2 separate regions of the Homo sapiens genome follow, and region 1 is linked to region 2. Evidence: fine-mapped expression QTL. Tissue or cell type: whole blood. Region 2 holds a variant in brackets; the other region holds the start of a gene. All regions are shown on one strand. Distances are between the middles of the regions. Region 1 holds the start of SLC7A6 (solute carrier family 7 member 6). Region 2 overlaps SLC7A6 (solute carrier family 7 member 6).

Region 1 (11,074 bases), 34 kb after region 2:
ACTCCTGAGGCAGCTGGGGCAGGATAAAAGAAAAAAAAAACCTCTATGCCTGGAGGAGGGGTAGGAAATTCTGGGCAAGACCACCGGAGGTGTCTTTCTCCTGGGAAAAGGGCAGGAGCACCCAGAAAGATCCACTCCCAAGACCCAGGGAAACAAACAGGGCCTGCTTAAGACTGAGGCTGAACCAGACAACAGAGAAATCCCTACTCCCTACCACCAGGTTAGCAAGCACCCAGGAACAAGCAACAGTAGTCTACCACTGAGACTGTGCACTGAGGCATAGGTGCACAGAGAAATCCTAAAGCTGAGGGTGGCTGGACGCAGTGGCTTACACCTGTAATCTCAGCTACTCTGGAGGCTAAGGCTGGAGGAACTTGAGGCCAAGAGTTCGAGACTAGCCTGGGCAACATAGCAAGACCCCATCTCTACAAAAAAAAATTAAAAAGTAGCCAGGCATGATGGCACACGCCTATAGCCCCAGCTATTTACTCAGAAAGCTAAGAGGTAAGTTTGAGTTCAGGAGTTGGGAGGCTGCAGTGAACCATGATGGCACTACGGGCACTCCAGCCTTGGTGACAGAGTGAGATGACCGAGTGAGACCTTTTTTCTTTCTTTTTTTTTTTTTTGAGACAGAGTCTTGCTTTGTCACGCAGGCTGCAGTGCAGTGGTACAATCTTGGCTCACTGTAACCTCCACCTCCTGGGTTCGAGGGATTCTCCTGCCTCAGCCTCCCAAGTAGCTGGGACTACAGGTGTGCACTACCATGCCTGGCTAATAAACTGAGGGTATGGATGGAGGATAACCACTGAGAAAAAGCCTCCCTCCTGCAAACCAACCGTAAGCTGGCAAGGAAACATGAGAAGAATTTGAAGTCATTGGTGCACCTAACGTAACCATAGCAACAATAACACCCAAACACTACTGTCTCCTGACTAGGAGTTCAAACTCCCATACAAACAGTCTAGCAAAGAAGAGCTGTACCCAGTTCCCAAAATAAATACTATATACCTCAGTCTCTACTGTTCCACACACGGTATCTGGCAATCAGTAACAAGTTACAAGCAACATAAAAAAAGCAAGAAAAACAACCCACTATCAAGAGGAAAAGTAATCAATAGGACCATATTGAGAGATGACCCAGATAATGGAAACATCAAACAAGGAATTTAAAATAATTGTGTTTGATACATTTAAGGTTCTACTGAAAAAGTTGAACAGCATGCAGAAACAAATGTGGAACTTTAGCAGTGAGATGAAAACCAAAAGGGTCAAAATGGAGAAAGTGAAAAAATAGAACAGAACATCAACCTGTGGGGCAATATCAAATAGCCTAGGTAAATATTTTTTAATACGTATTTTTGCTCTTTTTTTTTTTAGACGGAGTTTCGCTCGTTGCCCACGCTGGAGTGCAATGACGCGATCTTGGCTCACTGCAACCTCCGCCTCCTGGGTTCAAGCTATTCTCCTGCCTCAGCTTTCCGAGTAGCTGGGATTACAGGCATGCGCCACCACACCCAGCTAATTTTTTGTATTTAGTAGAGACGGGGTTTCACCATATTGGTCAGGCTGGTCTCGGACTCCTGGGACCTCAGGTGATCCGCCTGCCTCGGCTTCCCAAAGTGCTGGGATTACAGGCGTGAGCCACCACACCCAGCCAACAAAAAAATTTTTAAAAATTTTAAATTCCTGCAGTCTCCTGCAGCAGGTAATAAAGGAATTTAACAGACTACCAAAATTTCCCCATGAAAATTTAACCACGAAACTGCCACAAGCAATTTTTGGAATAAATGAATTTATCACAATTCAATTACATCAGAAAACGGGATGAAAGGGGGGAAAAGCTCGATTACAAAGGAAGTTTTACAAAGTGGATTTGAAACCAAAATTTTTGTAATGACTAAAGGAAAAAATGCTATTGAGAATGTTTGGAAAAACTCAAAACCATTTTTACTGTGTACTCTCACACCACAATAATCAACACAGAAGAGTTCTGTGACCAAATGCCGGAGGGGGAGGGTTCCCCACTAACAAGCAATCATTTCTCCCCAGGGACACCAGCTGAGTGTCCTCCAGTTCAATCCCAACACTATCTACCTGGAGACAGCATCAGATCCCACAGCAGAAGGGCTCAGTTCCACAAGACTGCCCCTCCCCAACAGGATACCTGGCACAAATCCAAGCCTCCTGAACTTCTGACCGAACTGTTTCAAGTTGGGGCTCCCAAGACTCCTCTTTCAGTTCAATTAATTTGCTAGAGCGGCTCACAGAACTCAGAGAAACACTTACTTACCTTTACTTGTATATTATAAAGGCTATTACAAAGGATACAGATGAAGAGGTTTGCAGAGCCACATATGGGGGAAGGGTCACAGACTTTCCTTGTCCTCCCAGGGAGAAGTACCATCCAGGAACCTCCACATGTCCAGCTATCCGGAAGCTCCCCAAACCCCCAGCCTCTTGGGTTTTTATAGAGGCTTCATTACATAGGCATGAGTGATTAAGCCACTGGCCATTAGTGATCAACTTAACCTCACCCTCCTCCTTTCTCCCCTCCCCGGAGGTTGGGGGTAGGGCTCAAAGTCCCAACCCTCTAATCCTGACTTGGTCTTTCCAGTGACCAGCCCCCATCCTGAAGCTTTCTAGGGGCTGCCAGCCACCAGCCATCAGCATACAAAAAGACATTACTTTGATCTTTCTAAGTATTTTAGGAGTTGTATGCTAGGAAACGGGCTGAAGACCAAAAAATATTTTGCTATATCACAGAGAAATACATCAAAATCTTTTTATTCCCCCCTCTGGTTGAATCAAAATCTTAACTATGGTGAAAACACAGAGGACTTTTTCTTATAAAACTCTCTGAGTTATGGCCAGGCGCGGTGTCTCACACCTGTAATCCCAGCATTTTGGGAGGCTGAGGCGGGTGGATCGCCTGAGGTCAGGAGTTCGGGACCAGCCTGGCCAACATAGTGAAACCCTATCTCTGCTAAAAATACAAAAAATTGTCCGGGCATGGTGGTGGGCACCTGTAATCCCAGTTACTCGGGAGGTTGAGGCATGAGAATCACTTGAACCCGGGAGGTGGAGGTTACAGTGAGCCAAGATCGCACCATTGCACTCCGCCAGGGCAATGAGAGCGAAACTCCTTCTCAAAAAAAAAAAAAAAAAAAAAAAAATCCACCACAATTGGGAGGCTGAGACGGGCAGATTGCCTGAGCTCAGGAGTTCGTGACCAGCCTGGCCAACATGGTAAAGCCCCGTCTCTACTAAAAATACAATAATTAGCTGGGCATGGTGGCGGGCGCCTGTAATCCCAGCTACTTGGGAGGCTGAGGCAGGAGAATCGCTTGAATCCAGGAGGCAGAGGTTGCAGTGAGCAGAGATTGCGCCACCACACCCCAGCCTGGGTGACAGAGTGAGACACTGTCTCCAAAAAAAAAGAAAAAACCCACCACAATTACTCTTTATAAAGAATTGTAATATAAATAAATGTATAATTTATTTTTATAATAAATTACAGTGTTATTTAATATGTAATACTAAAGAGTTGTTAATTATGTGTAAGCCATTCTGTTTACTAGTATTGTATTCACACTGTATACAAGTAAAAACTCTTTGTAAATCACACAAACAAAAGAAAAGACAGCGCAACAATATTCACCTGTCAAGAAATACGCGAACATCACACTTTCATAAGCCACCTCCTCATAAATGGGTCCAGTACTGAGAAGGAAATGAAGTCCCCTGCAGCAAGGCCTAATTCCACTTGTCTGCCTCGGCCACATAAACTCTGCAACAAAGAGTGGGAGGGAACTGATCAAAAAATGAACTCTTTTAACCTGAGAAAGCTGATTTAAATATATATATATATGTAATTATTTTTAATTAACCAAGAAAGCAGCAGAATGATATTTCCTTGTAAAATCTAAATTTTACATGCCCGGCAGGGGCAGTCCTAATTACTAGCAGGTTCCATGACACCCACAGGGTGGGTATAACTGAAGTAGCCAGCCCAAACCTGTCAGAGAACTGGCCTTGTCACATTAAATCATGTAAGTCTAGGCAGCTCTGGGGCCCCAGGTCCCGTGGGCACCGTTTACATAACTTTTTTTCTTTTTTTTTGGAGATGGAGTCTCGCTCTGTTGCCCAGGCTAGAGTGCAATGGCGCAATCTTGGCTCACTGCAACCTCCGCCTCCCGGGTTCAAGCCATTCTCCTGCCTCAGCCTCCCGAGTAGGTGGGACTACAGGTGCCCACCACCACACCTGGCTCAATTTTTGTATTTTTAGTAGAGACGGGATTTCACCATGTTAGCCAGGATGGTCTCGATCTCCTGACCCCGTGATCCGCCTGCCTCGGCCTCCCAAAGTGCTGGGATTACAGGACTGAGCCACCGCGCCCGGCCTGCATAACTTTTTTAGAAACTAATATACATCCAAGAAATTACAGCAGGAAGCACAAAGGTCAGGAAATTTCTTCTACTAAGAAGTTCCAGGGAGATGGGGATCATAAAACCGGTATATGCAATAAAAATACATCCACGGCCAAATAGGGAAGGAGGACAAGGAGAGGAAGAGAGGAGAAAATCAGGCTGGTGGTTTTCCACACACTTGCCAGGAAAATAAACTCCAGTGTAACGACTTGAATAACGATCTGAGATCAAAGTTGGGAAGCAAAAGCCGTCTGCGCAGCACACATGGGACCTGAGTAATGCAGGCAGCCTGGGCAGGTCCCCAAAAGGCCTCACCGCCACCAAAAAGAGGTGGAACTGATATAAGGAAGTACTCACAGCCTTTCAAGTCTGCTCCTCCCAGATCTGAAATCTGGGAGCAGTTCTGAGAGACAAGCCCCGGATGGCTGGGCACTGAACAGCCGCCCTGCGAGATGAGCTGCCCTGGCTTTTTCCCCTATCAAGGGCAGAGACTGAATTCTTTTTAACTGTGTCACCAAGCCCAGGGCATACAAGAGGTACTCAAAAACGTGTTCGCCGACACCCTGATTCCTATTTATACTGACCATTACACAACATGTTTGCTTAGAGCCCAGCAAAGAATTTTCAGAATGTTTCACGTCTATCTCCCCACATTCAGGAGAGATAGTCACACAAGATGACAGGCTATAGGGACGCTCAAAAGAGCCATAATCACCAGGGGCACGCGGGTTCCCCAGCGCCAGCAGCCCAACGCTCCAGGCTCCAGCACGCCACAAAACCTTGCGGCATTCTCTAAAGTAAAAGGACTGATTTTAAAATGATAATCGTCATTCTTGCGACAGCCCCAGGAAGCCTGGCTCCTGAGGTCCTGAGCCCGCGTCTTTCTTTGCCCCACCGCGGCCGCCACACAGCACAGGTTCTCCGTCCTGCAGTCGGAGGCGCAGTCACAGCCCCACTCAGGGTCACCGTCGCACAGTCTCACGCTCGCGGCGCGGCCCGCGCACTCAGCGTCCCGGTCACCCTCGCACCTGGGGTTTCCCTCTCCACACACACCCCCGGTCTCCCTCACACTCGCCGCGTCGCCAGCACACCCCAAGACTGGCTCCCTCGCGGTCACCATCAGCCTCCGGGGCTCGCACCCATACAGCGTTTCTCCCACACTCGGCCCTCACGCTCGAGGTCCCTCTCTCCTCGTGGCGCCCCCCCTCACCCGCAGCGCCTCTCGCGCGGCCCCGATCGGCCAGCCCCGCGCTGTTTCTGGGCCGCATCCCGCTCCCGACGGCGGCAGCGAAGACCCACAGGGTTCGGCTCCCACAGAACGCGGCCCAGCCCCGGCCCCGCTCCCGGCGCGCCCGCCCATGGCCCAGCCCGTTACCTCCCAGTGGCCCGGCGCCGCCAGGATGCTCGGTCGCGCCGCCGCCGCCGCGGCAGCTCAGGCCCCGCCCCGCCACGTCACCCGCCGCCGGATCGCGACAGCGCGCGCCGCGTCGGGACACAGTTCCGTGCGGGGCCAGCTGGCGGCGGCGCTTCCGGGCCCCCGTGGCCGCCACGGCCTGGCCGGTACGGGGTCCGCCGGCCCAGAACGTGAGCGTGGACGCCAGACAGCCCCCAGCTGCCTCGTCAGGGCTCGAGCAGCCCGTGAACTGGGCCCGGCCACGCTCGCCGCCCTGGAGTTAGATGGGGCCTCCGAGGGCGTCCACAGCGGACATTCCCGCGGGGAGCTCTCATCGGCCCCCGCACCCCGTTCCTATCTCGCACTTGACCTGGGCCCGACGCCCAGGGCGCCCCCTACAGCTCACACAGGGATCCAAACGGCCTCCGCCGCCGGGCCACTGCCACTCGCAGTCTAGGAACCCCAGGAAGACACACACTCTGGGGACTTGTCCAAACACACGCACAGCTCAGACTCGTAGCCCTTGAGGCCCCCGCACCCACAAAGAAACTGCAGGCTCCCTTTGCCAACCCCAGGCCTCCCTGGGGCTCTGTCCTCATCTTCCCAAGAGGGCTGCCACCCCTCTTGGGGGAGCTGCACCTCCTGCCCCCCCTCTTGGGGGAGCTGCACCTCCTGCCCCCTTCCCCTCCCTCTGTTTGCTCCTCCATCTTTCTCTCGAGTTCCTTTTCCTCTGGTGGCTCTGGGGCTCTCTGTCTAGAGCCTCCTGACCTCATGGGCGCCTGAGCCCTCCTCCGAAATTTCCTGTCCACACCTCAAGCACTGACTTTCTCCAGGGCCCTGGAATCTTTTCCCCCAGCCTTATGACCACAAGTACACGTCCTCTGGTTCCAGACCATACCCAAGACCCTGCTCCCTGCCACCCAGTGACAGGGACCCAGCCAGAGATGGGTAGCACCTCAGACCCTTCCTCCCCACTCCTCCCACGGCCTATACCTCGTTTTCTTCTCCCCAGCCACAACGGCTTCTCAATCCCTATCCTGCTCCCCTTACCCCATCTCCACAGAGTAGGGGATGCTCCTAGAATACAGATTGCGATGACTTTGTATCTCCCCTGCCTAAAACCCTTCCATTCTCCTCTCTGCAGGCCTGGGATGACAATACTTGAGGAATCCTCGCTGGTGCTGCCCTCCTGCCCTCTGCTTGGAACCCCTCCCCTAAGTGTCAGTGAGTGGACGTATATATTTGGATCAATCGAGTTGCACCCTTTGCCTCCCAGATCAGTTCCTCCGGCCTCCCTGGCTGAGCAGAAGGACAGCTCTGGACACTTGTGTCAGCACCCAGCCCACGTGTCCCTGCCACAGCTTCATATAAGGTATGCCGGCTCAGCCGGGCCTGGTGGCTCACGCCTGTAATCCTACAACTTTGGGAGGCTGAGGCAGGCAGATCACCTTGAGGTCAGGAGTTCGAGACCAGCCTGACCAACATGGAGAAACCCCGTCTCTACTAAAAATACAAAATTAGCCGAGTGTGGTGGCACATGCCTGTAATCGCAGCTACTCAGGAGGCTGAGGCAGGAGAATCGCTTTAACCCAGGAGGCAGAGGTTGCAGTAAGCCGAGATCGCGCCATTGCACTCCAGCCTGGGCAATAAGAGCGAAAGTCTATCTCAAAAAAAAAAAAAAAAAAACACCATATGCCAGCTCCGTCTGGCTTTGCAGTCTCATACCCAGTTACGTAGCCCATCAGCTGAAAGCCCAATGTACACCACACCCTGAATCAGATGTTCTCCAACACCATCAGTGTTCCTCAGGACCACCCTGCAGGATACATTTATTTGTAACCATTCTTTTCTTTTGCTTTTAGAGATCTTGCTGTTGCCCAGGCTGGAGTGCAATGGCTATTCACAGGTGTGATCATAGCTCACTGCAGCCTCGAACTCCTGGTTTCAAGCGATCTTCCTGCCTCAGCTTCCTACTTGGGACTACAGATTTATTTCATCTTTTTTTTTTTTTTTGAGATGTATCTCGCTCTGTCTTGCTCAGGCTGGAGTGCAGTGGTGCCATCTTGGCTCACTGCAGCCTCCGCCTCCCAGGTTCCAGTGATTCTCCTGTCTCGGCCTCCAGAGTAGCTAGGACCACAAGGCATGTGCCACCACACCTGACTAATTTTGTATTTTTAGTAGATATGGGGTTTCACCATGTTGGCCAGGCTGGTCTTGAACTCCTGACCTCATGTGATCCACCCTCCTTGGCCTCCCAAAGTGCTGGGCTCACAGGCGTGAACCATGGCGCCCGGCCTATTTCACCTTTAGAGATAAAGTCTTGCCCAGGCTGGTCTCAAACTCCTGGGCTCAAGCGATCCTCCCACCTTAGCCTCCTGAGTAGGTGGAACTATAAGCGTGAGCCAATGCACCCAGATGTCCCCATTCTTTGGATGAGGAAACTGAGGGTCAGGAGGCTCCCCAGACAACTTGGCTGGAGCTAGTAGAGCTGAGATTTGAACCCTAGTATGCTGATCCTTAAGCCTCCTCTGATTCCATGCCCTTTCTCTCTGCAGCTATGAAACTGAGGGTGATGGTGAAGCTAAAATGGGTCAGGGATGAGTGGGGTGCCATGAGTAGGGGGGTGTCAGGGCCAAGCAGGGAGTCAGGTTGGGCAGGGCCTGGGGTGAAGCTCCCTTTCATGTTGTCATCCTTTTACTGAGGCCAGAGCTGCAGCTGGACCCCAGTATTTTTACCACAGGCATTTTTACCCCCACTCTGGGTCACCTCGTCCTTCCAGGTTTGGCTAACAGGTGGTTCAGTGAGAGGGTTCAGGGCGCCCTCTTGTGGCCCCTGGTGTATCAAAGTCTGGCGCCCCAGCTTGTGGGGCTGAGTTAAGACAGAACTGGGTACCGGCTGGGCTCTGGACTACAAAATTCAGGCTGGGACCCTATCCCCTATCCATGTTTCCTTGGCTCTGTCTCTGTTTCTGTCTTTGTCCATACCAGTCTCAGCCTAGTAGTCTCTTTTCCTCCCTTGATCTCTCTCATCTGTACCTCCCCAGGGGTACAGATGGCAGGCTGATGAGCTGAAGATGCAAAGAAGGGTGGCATCCTAAAAAGAACTCTAGGTTCAAAGGATGCTGACACTTGCAAGCTGAGGGAGGACAGAGGCTGGGAAGGAGGGTGTAGCCAGGGTGACCTGCAGGACTGTCCTTGCTCCCAGCTCCTGGGTGGCATGTGGGGCCTGCTGACCAGGCAGGAGCAGGGGGAGGACAGGACCCCATTTCCACAGGAATGTTTCAGGTTCTGGTTCTTAGTCCCAGGAAGGGAACTGGATTCCAGGAGAGAGGACAGGAGGATGAGGTCCACAGAAGGGCACAGGAACCATGCTTTGATGCTGAGACAACCTGTCAAGGCTCCTGTAAAGGCCCAGCCCCTAATTTCCTGCCTCTGTAGCCACCTTGTACCTCCACCACCTCCCTCCCCTCATGCTCAGAGCAGAATGTAGGCCAGGGCACCTTACAGCATCCAGAGTACTTTTATTGCCAGAATCCAGATACAGCCTGCTCAGAGCCCCATGTGGGGCCACTCAGGAACAAGGGGAGACAGATGCCAGGCATGTATGCAACAGAGAAAATCCAGCTGCACAGAAACCCTGTGGGAGAGCAGCTCAGTCCAGCGTGAAGGCGTCTTTGGGAACCCCACCTAGAGGCTGTACCCTTTTCTCGGCCTGTGGCCAGTCACCCACTTAGAGCCTACTGCCATGAAGGCAGCCCTGACTCTCCATGCCTGCTGCCACAGGGAGATCCATGGAGCACCCTGGGGCAGACAGAAAGCCCCTAGGGGGGCCTCAGGGGACCCCTGGCTCTCTCAGGGTCCCATTCAAGTTTCTGGGCTAGTCCCAGCACTAAGCTGGGTGCTGGCCAGGGTGGATAGGAGCCCCATCCTCAGCCCTGTGCTGACCCACTTGGTACTAGTGAGACCCTAGGGCAGGGTGGCAGTGTGATGGTGGGGTTAGCAAGAGGTGCAGCTCAGGGAAGCTGCGAGCAGCCTTGGCTGCTTCCTTGGATTCCCTTTCTCCATAGGTTCCCAGAAGGCCATGGCTCCAACCCCTGCTCTCATCCTTGGAACCACAGTCCCAGGGTGAAGGGAGGCAGCTTCAGTCCTGGGGCCAATAGCACATCCGAGGAAATCAGGGCCCCTGGAACACAGCCTGCGGGACTGGGGGCACATCTGCTGCCCAATCCAGAGCTTGAATGCTCCTGGTGGTAAGGGAGGTAGGAGTGGAGTGAGATGTCCCAGGGCCTGGGAACCACGAAGAACGCAACAAACTGCCCCTGCCTGCAGGAGCTACTAGGCTCGCCCAGGAAGCCAGTCAGGCTGGCCACCAGCTAAGCCACAGGGAAGCCAGCAGCTCTAGCTACCCATGACCAGTGGCAGGCCTATCTGTGGCTGGTGTGTGGGAAGGGTCACCCGAGGGGCCAGGAGCCGATCCCTGGGACCTCTGGGTACAGGACCACAGCCCAGTAACATCCCTCATAGGAAGGCTGCGGGGCCAGGGCCCAGTAGGCAAGTATGAAAAGCCCACAGGAATAGGGGGGACACATGGCCCCAGGCAGGGACTGGGACCAGGGCCCAGCCAGTCCACCCTGTGGAGCCAGTCCTAAGGTCACAGCAGTTCCACCATCAGCAGCATTCTTGCCATCCAGTGTCCCTTGAGTCTAGACTCTCATTTCTTCCTTCTTCACTGCCACAGAGAAAGGATAACAAACAGCACTTCCCCATGGCAGATGCTTCACAGTCCAAGACTCGGGGCCTTGAATGGTGAGTCACAAACTTTGCAAAACGCGTGGGCCATGACAGCCCCAGAGGCCAACAGCAGGTCCACGGCCGAGCCACAGGAGTCCTGTGGCACAGGAGTCAGGGCCCAAGGAGCACACGTTTCAGATAGGCCAGGGTGGTGGCGTTGGCCAGCATCTCGATGTGCTCGCTGCCTGGCAGCTCCTGCAGCAACACTTGGTGCTCCTGGCGGCTCTGCCAGGCCTGGCACTGCAGGGCACTCTTCAAGTTCACAGTACCATCGCCGTCACCAAAGCAGATTTTAGGGTCACGGTCAGGGAAGCTCTCATAGTAGAAGGAGTCTGGTGTGGGGACGCCAGTACCATAGAGGCAGTGCAGCTGCACGCCAGGTGGCATCGTGGCTTCCACCAGCCCTTCTGTGTCCTGCCGCATGAGCCAGCCATCTTCAAAGCCGATGTCCTGGAAGAACTTG
Region 2 (11,074 bases):
CTTGGAACATCATGTTTTGGGTCATGCGTGTGTGTGTAATCTGTGGTTTCTTTACAGACATCTGACCCAGATGTGATCCTCTGCAATTCTGTAGAGTTGATCCGTGAGCGATTGACTGTGTCTGAGGATGGACCAGGAGTCAGGCGCCAGGAAGAACAAAAACACGATGACTATGTGTATGACATTTACTACTTGGAGACGGCCACTCCAGGCTGGATTGAGAACATCCTCTCCGTGCAGCCCTACAGCCAAGAATGGGAGCTGGTAAGGGGGCCCATGAGCAGACGGGGCATGAGGCATCCTAAGCTCTTAATCTAATCAGAATGCTTTGCTTCCCTGGGCTCCACTCCCGAACAACATTGTCCTTAGTTCTTTTCCTCCTGAAAAGGAAGAAATTATTCTAAGTGCCTTTTAGGAACCTGACTTTATAGTACAGGGAATTTGGGGAAAGATCATCTTAGATTGATCATTTTTACATTAATGAATATTTTACAAGGTTTGCAACATCACCTTTATTGTTTATAGCTATCCATTCTTAGGGGGGAAATATGTATATGGGGCTTATGATAAGATAAAGACGATAAAATCAGAAATTCTTAACATGAGTGACAACAAAATCTATTTTTTAATTCGTACCTTAGAAGTAGAGAAACCTCGGATGAAGAAAGCTAACGTCCTGACATTATTCTTTTTTTTTTTTCTTTTTTGAGACAAGGTCTCACACTGTCACCCAGGCTGGAGTGCAGTGGTGCTATCTGAGCTCACTGCAGCCTCTATCTCCCAGGCTCAAGCAATCCTCCTATCTCAGCCTCCCAAGCAGCCAGCCAGGAGTACAGGCATGCACCATGATGCCCAATTTTTGTTGATTTTTTTGTAGAGGCAGGGTCTCACTATGTTGTCCAGGCTGGTCTTATGGTCTTGAACTCCTGGGCTCAAGTGATCCACCTTGGCCTCCCAAAGTGTTGGGATTACAGGTGTGAGCCACCACACCTAGCTGACACCATTATCTTTTTTTTTTTTTTTTTTGAGATGGAGTCTCGCTCTGTCACCCAGGCTGGAGTGCAATGGTGCAATCTTGGCTCATTGCAACCTCCGCCTCCTGGGTTCAAGCGATTCTCCTGCCTCAGCCTCCCAAGTAGCTGGGACTACAGGTGCATGCCACCATGCCTGGCTAATTTTTGTATTTTTAGTAGAGACAAGGTTTTACCATGTTGCCCAGGCTGGTCTCAAACTTCTGACCTCAAGTGATCCACCCACCTCGGCCTCCCAAAGTGCTGGGATTACAGGCGTGAGCCACCGCGCCCAGCCTATTCTCAAATTCTAAAATGCTTAACAAGAAAACTTAAGGTGGCACCTAATGGTCATGCTCAGACTATAATCAAGAAGCACTGCATCCTGCACCTGCATTAGGACAGATTTGCAGTCAGGTACCCACCTTGGACCACTGCATGGCCCTTCCTCCTGCCTTTCCGCACCTCTTACGCTTGGGTTTTGGTTTTGACCTTTGGAATTTGAAGGAATCGCTCAGAGCCATCACTCCTCTTTTCCCTGTGTTCCCTTCTCATGGGGTCCAGCATGTCCTATCATTGTGGAGCTGGGCTCTGAGTGGAAGGGGGCTATTATCTCCCTCTCATAGCCTCTTGTGCAATGGAGTCAAACTACTAGTCTGCAGTTTTTTCACAGGGCACTTTTACATGATATCTCTTCAAGCTGGTATGCTAACAACTTCCCCCAGAGCATAACCTTAGAGGTTTTGACTTGGACTCATGTTTGTGTTGAGATGTGTAGGTGAATGATGATCAAGAACCAGAGGACATTTACGACGATGAAGATGACGAGAACAGTGAGAATAACTGGCGCAATGAGTACCCAGAGGAGGAGAGCAGTGATGGAGATGAGGATTCCAGAGGTGGGTGGCAGCCCCAGACCGGGAGGGACTGGTAGGATCTGAGACTGAGGTGCAGGCATAGTTGACAGGTGCATCTTAATTGCCTTTCCTTCTCTGTCATTGAGCGCCAGCAGCCCAGCCGCAACTGAGCCATGCTGTAGGAGACCCAAAGACCAGTGTTTCCCAGGGGCCTCCTGGGGGTGTAATAATCCATCAGGCCTGGATTCAAATCTGTAGTTGTCATTACTTTGCTGTGGCTCTTGGGCAGTTACTTCACCTCACTGAGCCTCATTTTCTCTCCAAATGAGATGGTTCTGCATGAATTTTAGTGGTTGAGATTATGTAAAATATGTAGCTCATTGTCTCTTCCCCTGCCCCAGTCAAGAAACCAATGAAGAGAGAGGTTTGCCAGTAGGAATAAGCCCAGAGTTTTCACAAATCAGTTATCTAACTTCTCAAAAAACTGCTGCATGTACAACTGTTTTGAGAAAGATGCAACACAGACATAATACCTGGGGGAAGAAGAAAGATGCTCTGACAACATAATTCCCGTAGTAACTATATTAAAGAAGAGAGAAGAAGGCCCAACAAAAAGAATTTATTGGTGTCTGATAACAGAGAAATGAATCAAACAATTGCATATTCTTTTGGGGAGGTTTGTCAATAACACGTTAAAAGGAGAAAGGTACAAAAATATTTACAATATGACTACAACTCTTACAACAACAAAAAATCCTATACGGAGGGGAGAAGTGACAAAATACTCCACGGAGGGGAGAAGTGACAAAATACTCCAGTGTGAAGGAACTTGGTTTAGATGATAGGAAAGTGATTCCTTCTTTAAAAAAAAAAGAATTCTATATTCTTTTTTATTTATTGAGCAAGGATTTTGCATTACAATCGGGAACAAAAACAGACCTTTCTGAGAAGAGAAGGGGCTCCTGCAGTAGCCTAGGAAAATCACATTTAGAATCCACTCCCGGGATGTCATTCTAGGCTCTGCTGACTACAACAGCCTGAGTGAGGAGGAAAGAGGCAGCAGCAGACAGCGGATGTGGAGCAAGTACCCTCTGGATGTGCAGAAGGAGTTCGGCTATGACAGCCCCCACGACCTGGATTCAGACTGATGGTCTTGTGATGTCCATGAGGTTCTGCCACATGCCCTTGAGGGCTCTGAGTCCAGAGTTAACTGCCCTGCTGACATCCTGTTAGGTTTCCTAGCTTAACATGTGGAAGGAAAAGCATATCAAGCATATCGGGCGGCACCATCCCACCACAGTGAAAACTTATGTTAGGGGAGTGAGTCTTTTCCACTTACAGTAGGACCCCTTTGCCTCAATCAAAAGTGACCCTACAGTTTGAAAGAAAAAAAAACGTTGAAAAAAGGAAGGTTTCTTTAGCTTTAGCTTCTTGGCCCAGGAATTTTTCCTGGCATTCAGGTTCTGTGCTGAAACCACAAGGGAGGGGGAGGTTCCCATTTCATTAGCAGTAAGCTTCTGCTGTGCCATACCACCAGGCTGCCTGCCTCTAGGAAAACCCTGTTCCTTTTGATAGAATCTAAAAGGGGTACCAGTGGGTCCCTTGTAGCAATACAGACTGGATAGTAATGGCCATTAGGGCAGAAAGTAGTCTGAGCAGTGGGAGATTTTAGTTAACAGCTATTTCTGCTTCCAAACTCTGATAACGGTTGTGAAATTACTGACTGACTTCCTTTGGCAGTGGGGCCAAGAAACAATATATATGAATGTGATACATGTGTTTAGTAAAATCTAGCTTTGAACATGGAAGAAAGTAATTCTTTGAAAACCTTTTAAATCTGAATATCTAAAACAGGGAGCGGTAGTGAAATAGAAGGTTCAGCATTGATTATAAATACCAAGGACTTAAGGCAAGGGAGGAAAAACAAAGTACCTTCTGAACTTAGCTTTCCACTGAGTAATGTTTACTCTTCACAGCACCCACCACAAAAACAAACTACTATCAACAGGATCAATTTTATTAACAACTTGTATCTCTTCTAAGCAGACTCTGTCCGTATGCCTTTCCAAACCATAGCTGCCTTAACTGACTGCCTTGGTGTTTATTCTAGCGTAACATTGTCCAGTAGAACTATCTGCAGTGATGATATGTTCTGTGTCTGCACTGTGTAGTAGTAGACACGGGTGGCTGCTGAGCACTTGAAATGTGATTAGCGCAACTGAGAAACTGAGCTTTTAATTTTATTTCATTTTAATGTAATTAGCTACACGTGGCTAGTAGCTGTTGCAGCGGACACCACAGGTCTAAGGAAACAACACAGAACATTCAGCTAGGGGTGTACCCTCATAGCCTGTGAGTGTCTCTTACTCACTGTCATGGGGGAAGGTGAGTTACACAGGGAGGTACCTTCTTGCCGCCTCTTTTAGGATTTCCTAAGTATCTCTCCTTCATCCTACCTGCCATCATTCTTTGACTTTATGTCCATTTTCTAAACCTTTGCCTACACTTGCTCTTATCTACATGGAGTTGTTCAACCTGCCGAAGTGATTAAATTCTGTGTACACAGGCCGTATATATTGCAGCTAATTAAAACAACAAACATCCTAGGCATGCACAAAGGTATAATTCACCGTTATAACAGGCAGCAACTTGTATGTCTAATATTAGACATCTTGCTTTCTGTCTGTAGGCATAGAAACAAAGGATTGAAAGCCATTCTCATACAGCAACCGGGTGAAAAAAACAAAACACTGTGCTGTTACAATGTGCTCCCTGCTATTTATACTCATTAAGTTTCCCCAATATTAAAGGGCTGACAACTTAATAAACTGTACTCACTGCAAAAGGGATAATAAGCACACCAGGAAAAGGATTTAAGGAGACAGACAACAAAGAGCTGGCAGAAATTAATTCCACCATGAAGCTTGAGTGCTGTAGGGATCCTCTGGCTTCGCTCCCAAAGAGAGGATCCTGGGAGAAGTCTGTATCCAGCACAGAGGGGAAAAATGCTGTCACCATCCAAAAATGAAAGGAGGATGACATGGCTCACTAAGCAAGTACTAGGGCACCTGGCATGTGAGGTCCTTGCTTTCCCTAGAAGCCACTGGTGGGGGGCAGCAAATTCCTGGGATTAGCTGGTTATCTGGTGGAGAAAGCTAAAGCTGGGGTCAGGGATCTTTAAAAGGCAAGCACATTTTGCTTAAAGGATTAGCTCCAGAGGAGCCCTGGGATGGGTGCCAGCTTAGCTCAGACAGAAGTCATGTTCTTAGCGTTCAGGCAAGTCAGCCTTTGCATAAGACACCCTGTCGTCGGGCAGGAATTTGCCGTTACAAATCCCAAACCCATGACAGTAGGAATGTCACCCCATGCTTCACATATGCATTATGCTCTGAACCCAGGGCAACTATGACCATGCTTCCTTCAATCTTTATTGAGCAAATATATGGCCAAGGTTATTCCCTTATCTGTGACTGGGTGGAGAAGAATGGTCAGGAAGGGAGACTGCCTCACTGTTGACCAATTCCAAAACCTAAGGATAAGCCCATGGGGTATGTCAAGCTAGCAGGTTCTTCTCGGCC[C/T]AGGATGACAGTGTCTGGGGGCATCACAAAACAGTTGTACAATCCAATGCAGCCGTCCTGCTCATACAGTAAGATCCATTAGGCCAGAGCAGGCCTAACTTGGGTGGAGAGCCCAGCCTGAGCACCAGAATTAGTTGCTTCCACTTGTGCAGCCTGCTGAAGAGCCGGACTCAGGTTGAAGCAGCTTTCCTCCCAGTCTTCACTGATCTCCACAGGGAGAAAACAGAAGTCCCCACAAGTACCAAGCTCTTCCTGAGACTGCAGCCACCACACCTCGGGGAAGGGGAGGCTGGCAGGAGAGGAGTACACTGTCCCGGTGACCCACACCAAGGTGGCTCCAAGTGTAAACAAAGCCTGGTGCCAGGGACAGAAGAGGATGCAGCCTGATGTGAGGTTTTCAGAAAAGTGAAATGACCTAGCACCAGGTTGGGATTGCTTGGGTCTGCACAGCAGTCCCTCACACTGCCCTTACAGAGAGGAACAGGTTATTTGATGACTTGGGCCCATGAGATGTTCTCCAAGCCATTGACAGCTGAGAGAATTCAGGTGATCCACCTGAATATCAGAAGTTTCAGCCCTCTTAGAGTTCGTAACAGAAACCCAGAGATTTACTGTCAGCTAGAACAAAGATGTAAGGTCTCAAGTAAAATAAAGGATTGTCCTTCAAAACAGCAATATTAACAGACTTCTGACTCAGGAATTTGTTCATCTGTCCTTGCTGGACCTGAGCCAAGTGCTTGTAACGTGATCTATGATCTATCTGTATGCTAAAGTGTAACAGGTACGTGAGTAAAAAAATCTTTAAGGTTCATTGTTGCAGGTAAGACTCAATAGAAATTGTGCTAAACAGCATAAAACCTGTGGTCAGAGTCTGACCCAATACCACAGACATTTCTGAGCCCAAAGGGACTCAGTTTTGGGTACTTTGATTTTTAAATACAATCAGCCTATTGCATCCTGTAGATGAAGAGACACGCATGCTTCGTTAGAACTGGTGTTCTGGACTAAATATCAATAAATAAGGGAATATAACTCTCTCCCCAGGGAAGAATTTTGAGCCAGAGGAAGAAATGGTAGCATTTCAGGCCTTTAAAGTCAGGTGTTGTACCTGGTCAGAGAAAAACTTCCCATAAAGCAGCCCCTCTATAGGGACTCCTAGTTCAAATACCAAATTCAGAAGCCACCAGCCCTATCAACCTAGCATTCCCTCTTCCCCACTGCACTTTACCAAGTAAATATCTGTAAGAGCTGCATCTACCTATCAGGAGTAAAACTAAATGACCATTCCCCCCGTTCCCCAATCTTCCCCCCACCCTCTGAAGCCCCCACCTTGAGGTTGGCCCAGATCCTGAGTCTCCTATAGCTTACCAATAAGAGTGAGCACTGGCCCTGAGCCCCACTATATGATTGGGTCAAAAGGCTCCTTTAATTCAGGAGAGTTGGGCCCACAGAGTCTTGTTATCAGGATTTTGCTGGTTGGCCTGCCTTCCAGGCCTCAGAAAGCCACCTCTGACCTCTAGTCAGTTTTCCTCTCATCCTTTTTTTCTTCGGCTACATCAAGCTCAGTCAGGACACAAAAGCAAAGCTGCTGGGTGCCTCTGGTGATAGCAGCTAAATGAAAATAGAGCAAGCACAGGGTTTAGTAAACATCTAGCTACAGCCCTAACCTGAACAAGGCTGACTAGTAACATCTATGGCTCCCTCGCCACCTGCCCCTTAAGTACCCTATATCAGGCTTTGCCCCTGTCTCCCAACAAGCCTCATCATCCTCTGTCCCATGCCCAACCAGAGTCTGATGCACAACTCATCTTCCCAGGTGATTTGTGTTGTCAGGAGGTAATGTTTTAGCCCCAAAATAGGACACTAAAATTAGAACTAAAGTGATCATGTCAAAATCAAAAGGGAAGTCGTGGACAGCTGGGTCACATGGCCTCCAGCAAATTCTGAGTATGGGGAAGCTGTTAGCCACCCCCCACCTCTGCATGCGCATGCACACATAGCCGCCAGTGAGTAATGGGGCACAGAGAAGCTCACCCAGGACATTCCGAATAAACAATGGCCTCCGGGACTCTGGCAGGTAAACACCCATGAAGTAGAAAGGGACTCCAGAAAGGGCAATCCCGATGCCAATGAGGGAATTAATGGTGTCAGTGAAGAGGGGCACTATCACCAGAAACACGGAGCATATGCAGAACACGATGGGGAAAAACACGCTCAGCTGAAATAGAGGGGGTGAGAGATTAAGTAACGTGGGAAGAGGAAACAGCTCGTGGGCAAGAAGCCACCTTAGGGAGATGGCCCACCCCTCCTAGTCTGGCCAGAGCTGCTGACCTTGAGAGGCCGGGGCCGCTTGGGCTCCTTCCAGCGGAGGTAGAGCTGTCCAACAACAGACAGGCCCACGAAGAACCAGTAGCTGAAGCTGAAGTAGTTGATAAGCTGGAAAACATCCTCCACGATGAGGTAGATGAGTGCCATGGTGCACTGTGGGAAAGGGGTGGGGAGACAGGTGAGCATCGTCACCACCTGCGCCCCCAGGAGACTCCCCCACCCAGCAGTCAGTACTAGATCTGATGCCACTTCACCAGATTACCTCTGGCTCTTTTCATTGACCCCTTGGCATCAGATAGGTCCATTCCTTGATGTACCCTGAGGTACATTAACCCTCAGGGTAGCATCTTTCCCCCTTCTGTTGCAGCCCTTCCTCCACTCAATGCCTCCCCCTTGTTGCAAGCACTTTAGAAAAAGGCAGACGCTGAGGCCCTCCTCACTTCAGTGCAGCAACCTTAACATGGATTACACGGTGTCCTAGAGAGGGGTTAGACCTGGGTCCCGACTGCCTGGCATACAAATGGGGGAAACGCCTTCAGAACCATCTCACTGTCCTCAGGCCTGAGAAATGCTAACTAGCAATTGGATCCCTACCCATCTGGACTAAATAATGTCAATAAATAATGGAATCTAACTCTCTCCCCATGGAAGAATTTTGAGCCAGAGGGAGAAATTGTAGCATTTCAGGCCTCTGAAGTCAGGTGTTGGACCTGGAAACTAGCAAAATGGATCCATCCAGACATAAGACAGCATTAGCTTCTGGAACAAAAGAATCCTAGAAGGCAAGGATTAGGGCCTAGGGTCCTGGGACAAGGTCAAATGTGTTTAAACTTCAATAATCTTTTCATTACAAATTATCAACAAAGGATTTAAAACCAAATAGCTCATTCTGTGGAGATAAGGGAGAACCCTGTATTAAGAAGAGAAGGCTGGGCGTGGTGGCTTGTGCCTATAATCCCAGCACTTTGGGAGACTGAAGTGGCAGCTCACTGGAGCCCAGGAGCTCAAGACCAGCCTGGGCAACATAGTGAGACCTCATCTCTACAAAAAATAAATTAGCCAGGCCTGGTGGTGTGTGCCTATAGTCAGATAACCTCCTAAATTTATAAATTCAATGCTGGCCCTGTCAAAATATCAAGAGAATTTTTCTCTTACTTTGATGAAATGATAGAAAAGTTCATCAAGACAAATAAACGAATATGAGAATTGCTAGGAAAATTCCAAGGGCGGGGGGACTAAAGAAGTACCCTTGGTCCCTCTTTAGTTTTCAGATAGTCAGTATAAAGCTAAACTAAGGAGACTTGGTGCTGATGGGGAGGATTAGTTGAGATGGCACATTTAAGGGGCATACAATAATAATTGGCACATATTAAGGACCCTAAAAAAATTAGCTATTAATTTTCTGTGATAAAAGTTTGAAAACTGTGGGAAAATGGATTGTTGAGTGAGCGATATTGGTATAGCTGGCTGCCATTCGAGAAAAAATTAAGTGAATCCCCACCTTTCTCAATACTATGCTATAATATAAATTCCAGATTAATCCAAAATTAAACGTAATAAAACCATAAAAGAATTAAATGACAACAAAAAATGAACTGTTTTTCACATCTTAGAGTAAGGCCTTTCTCAGGGTCCCTCTTATTTAACAACTTAGCACAAATCAGAAGGAGCAATGCACAGATCCACCTGAGCCCCGTGGTCCCAGCAAAGCTTACATTGAACAGTAAAGCAGGGATAGGTGTAAAACGCTCAATGTGGATCATGGACAGAAGGTCCGGTAGGTGGCCCTCCCGGGAGCCCACGAAGAACAACCTAGAAGGATGAGAAATGTGTCAGCAGGATCCTTTACTCCTTTTACTCAGCCATACTCACTCCTCACTTGGACAAACTCAGCTCAGAGCCCCCGAGGAAAGCAGGATGCAGCCTCCCAGGAGCATCCCAGGTCCTTAGTGCATCACCAGTCCAACCTCCCTGCTCCCCCCTTCCCTACAGATTTTCCCTCCCTCTTCATCCCCGGGCACCTCACCACTACCCAGATGCCCCACCCACCATCACCCAGATACCCCCTCTTCTCTCAGCCACAGATACCTCACCAACATCCAACAGATGCCTCACCCTGCTGTCACCCACTAACAGACTCACCCAATCCATGCCAGATTCATAGCTAACATAATAGCTTTTAAAGGGCAGCCAGATTTCTGTTCATGCCCTCCATATATTTTCCCTGAGCTGATGTAAGGCAAGACTGAGGGTCAGAGAGACAACCCAGGCTTCCTTTCTACACCTAAAGAGCTCTACCGACTGGGAAAAAGACTGGCACAGCGTCCAGGCATGGTGGCTCATGCCTATAATCCCAGCACTTTCGGAAGCCGAGGCAGGTGGATCACCTGAGGTCGGGAGTTTGAGACCAGCCTGACCAACATGGATAAACCCTGTCTCTACTAATACAAAATAAGCCGGGCGCGGTAGCACATGCCTGTAATCCCAGCTACTCGGGAGGCTGAGGCAGGAGAATCACTTGAATCCAGGAGGCGGAGGTTGCAGTGAGCCGAGATCGCACCATTGCACTCCAGCCTGGGCAACAAGAGTAAAACTCCATCTCAAAAACAAACAAAAAAAGACTGGCACAGAAATGAACTGTCCCCAGCATGGTCAGCATCACCTTGGAGTACACGACACTCACTCGCTAGGCTTGAGGCTTGTGCCAAAATGCTTTGCAAGAGGAGAGATGCAAAGAAGAGTTTCCAGAAGCAAGTCGGTAGGTGGAAAAAACGAGCATGTGCATAGGCAAAATGTGTGGAGGTATGAAAGAGCGTGGCCTCTTTGGAGGTTGATGTAGAATGCCTAGAGCCCCAGGACAAGCTGTGTGAGAAGAGGGTGCTGGGAAGAACCTGCATACAAGGCCACACTGTGGAGTCTGAACAAACACAGTCAGCTGTGGCTTTGAGGTAAGGGCCTGACGGGATTTGACACCAGACTGGAGAGCAAACTAGAGCAGGGGGAGGCTAGGGTGTCAGGGAAAGGCTAGAAAAGAAGTCCATCTATCACAACTAGGCTGAGCAGAGGGAAGGTGACACTACTTTTTTTATTTTTGAGATGGAGTCTCGCTCTGTAGCCCAGGCTGGAGTTCAATGGCGCGATCTCGGCTCACTGCAACCTCCGCCTCCTGGGTTCAGGCAATTCTCCTGCCTCACCCTCCCGAGCGGCTGGGACTACAAGCACGTGCCACCATGCCCAGCTAATTTTTCTTTTTTTGTATTTTTAGTAGAGACAGGGTTTCACCATATTGGTCAGGCTGGTC

Evidence for each region.
Region 1: SLC7A6 starts here. The variant in region 2 is fine-mapped to the expression of SLC7A6 in whole blood (TOPMed, PIP above 0.99).

What each region holds. Positions count from the first base shown.
Region 1 is chr16:68,259,306-68,270,379 of GRCh38, reverse strand. SLC7A6 (solute carrier family 7 member 6) reads right to left here and starts at 5,854. Exons shown (of 11, transcript NM_003983.6): 1 at 5,804-5,854; 2 at 3,659-3,787. It overlaps PLA2G15 (phospholipase A2 group XV), which reads right to left. Exons shown (of 6, transcript NM_012320.4): 6 at 9,322-11,074. The coding sequence ends at 10,723. LOC124903704 (a long non-coding RNA gene) reads left to right here and starts at 5,923. Exons shown (of 3, transcript XR_007065096.1): 1 at 5,923-6,012; 2 at 6,966-7,193; 3 at 7,684-7,719. RefSeq lists an enhancer at 4,117-5,316 and a silencer at 5,689-5,968.
Region 2 is chr16:68,293,216-68,304,289 of GRCh38, reverse strand. SLC7A6 (solute carrier family 7 member 6) reads right to left here. Exons shown (of 11, transcript NM_003983.6): 8 at 9,489-9,585; 9 at 7,777-7,926; 10 at 7,480-7,663; 11 at 2,471-7,056. The coding sequence ends at 6,962. SLC7A6OS (solute carrier family 7 member 6 opposite strand) reads left to right here. Exons shown (of 5, transcript NM_032178.3): 3 at 58-264; 4 at 1,789-1,909; 5 at 2,885-6,256. The coding sequence ends at 3,015. Among named protein-coding and RNA genes, the nearest start is that of SLC7A6OS, 12 kb to the left of the region's middle. RefSeq lists a silencer at 6,010-6,304. The variant C/T (reference allele first, on the strand shown) is at 5,446.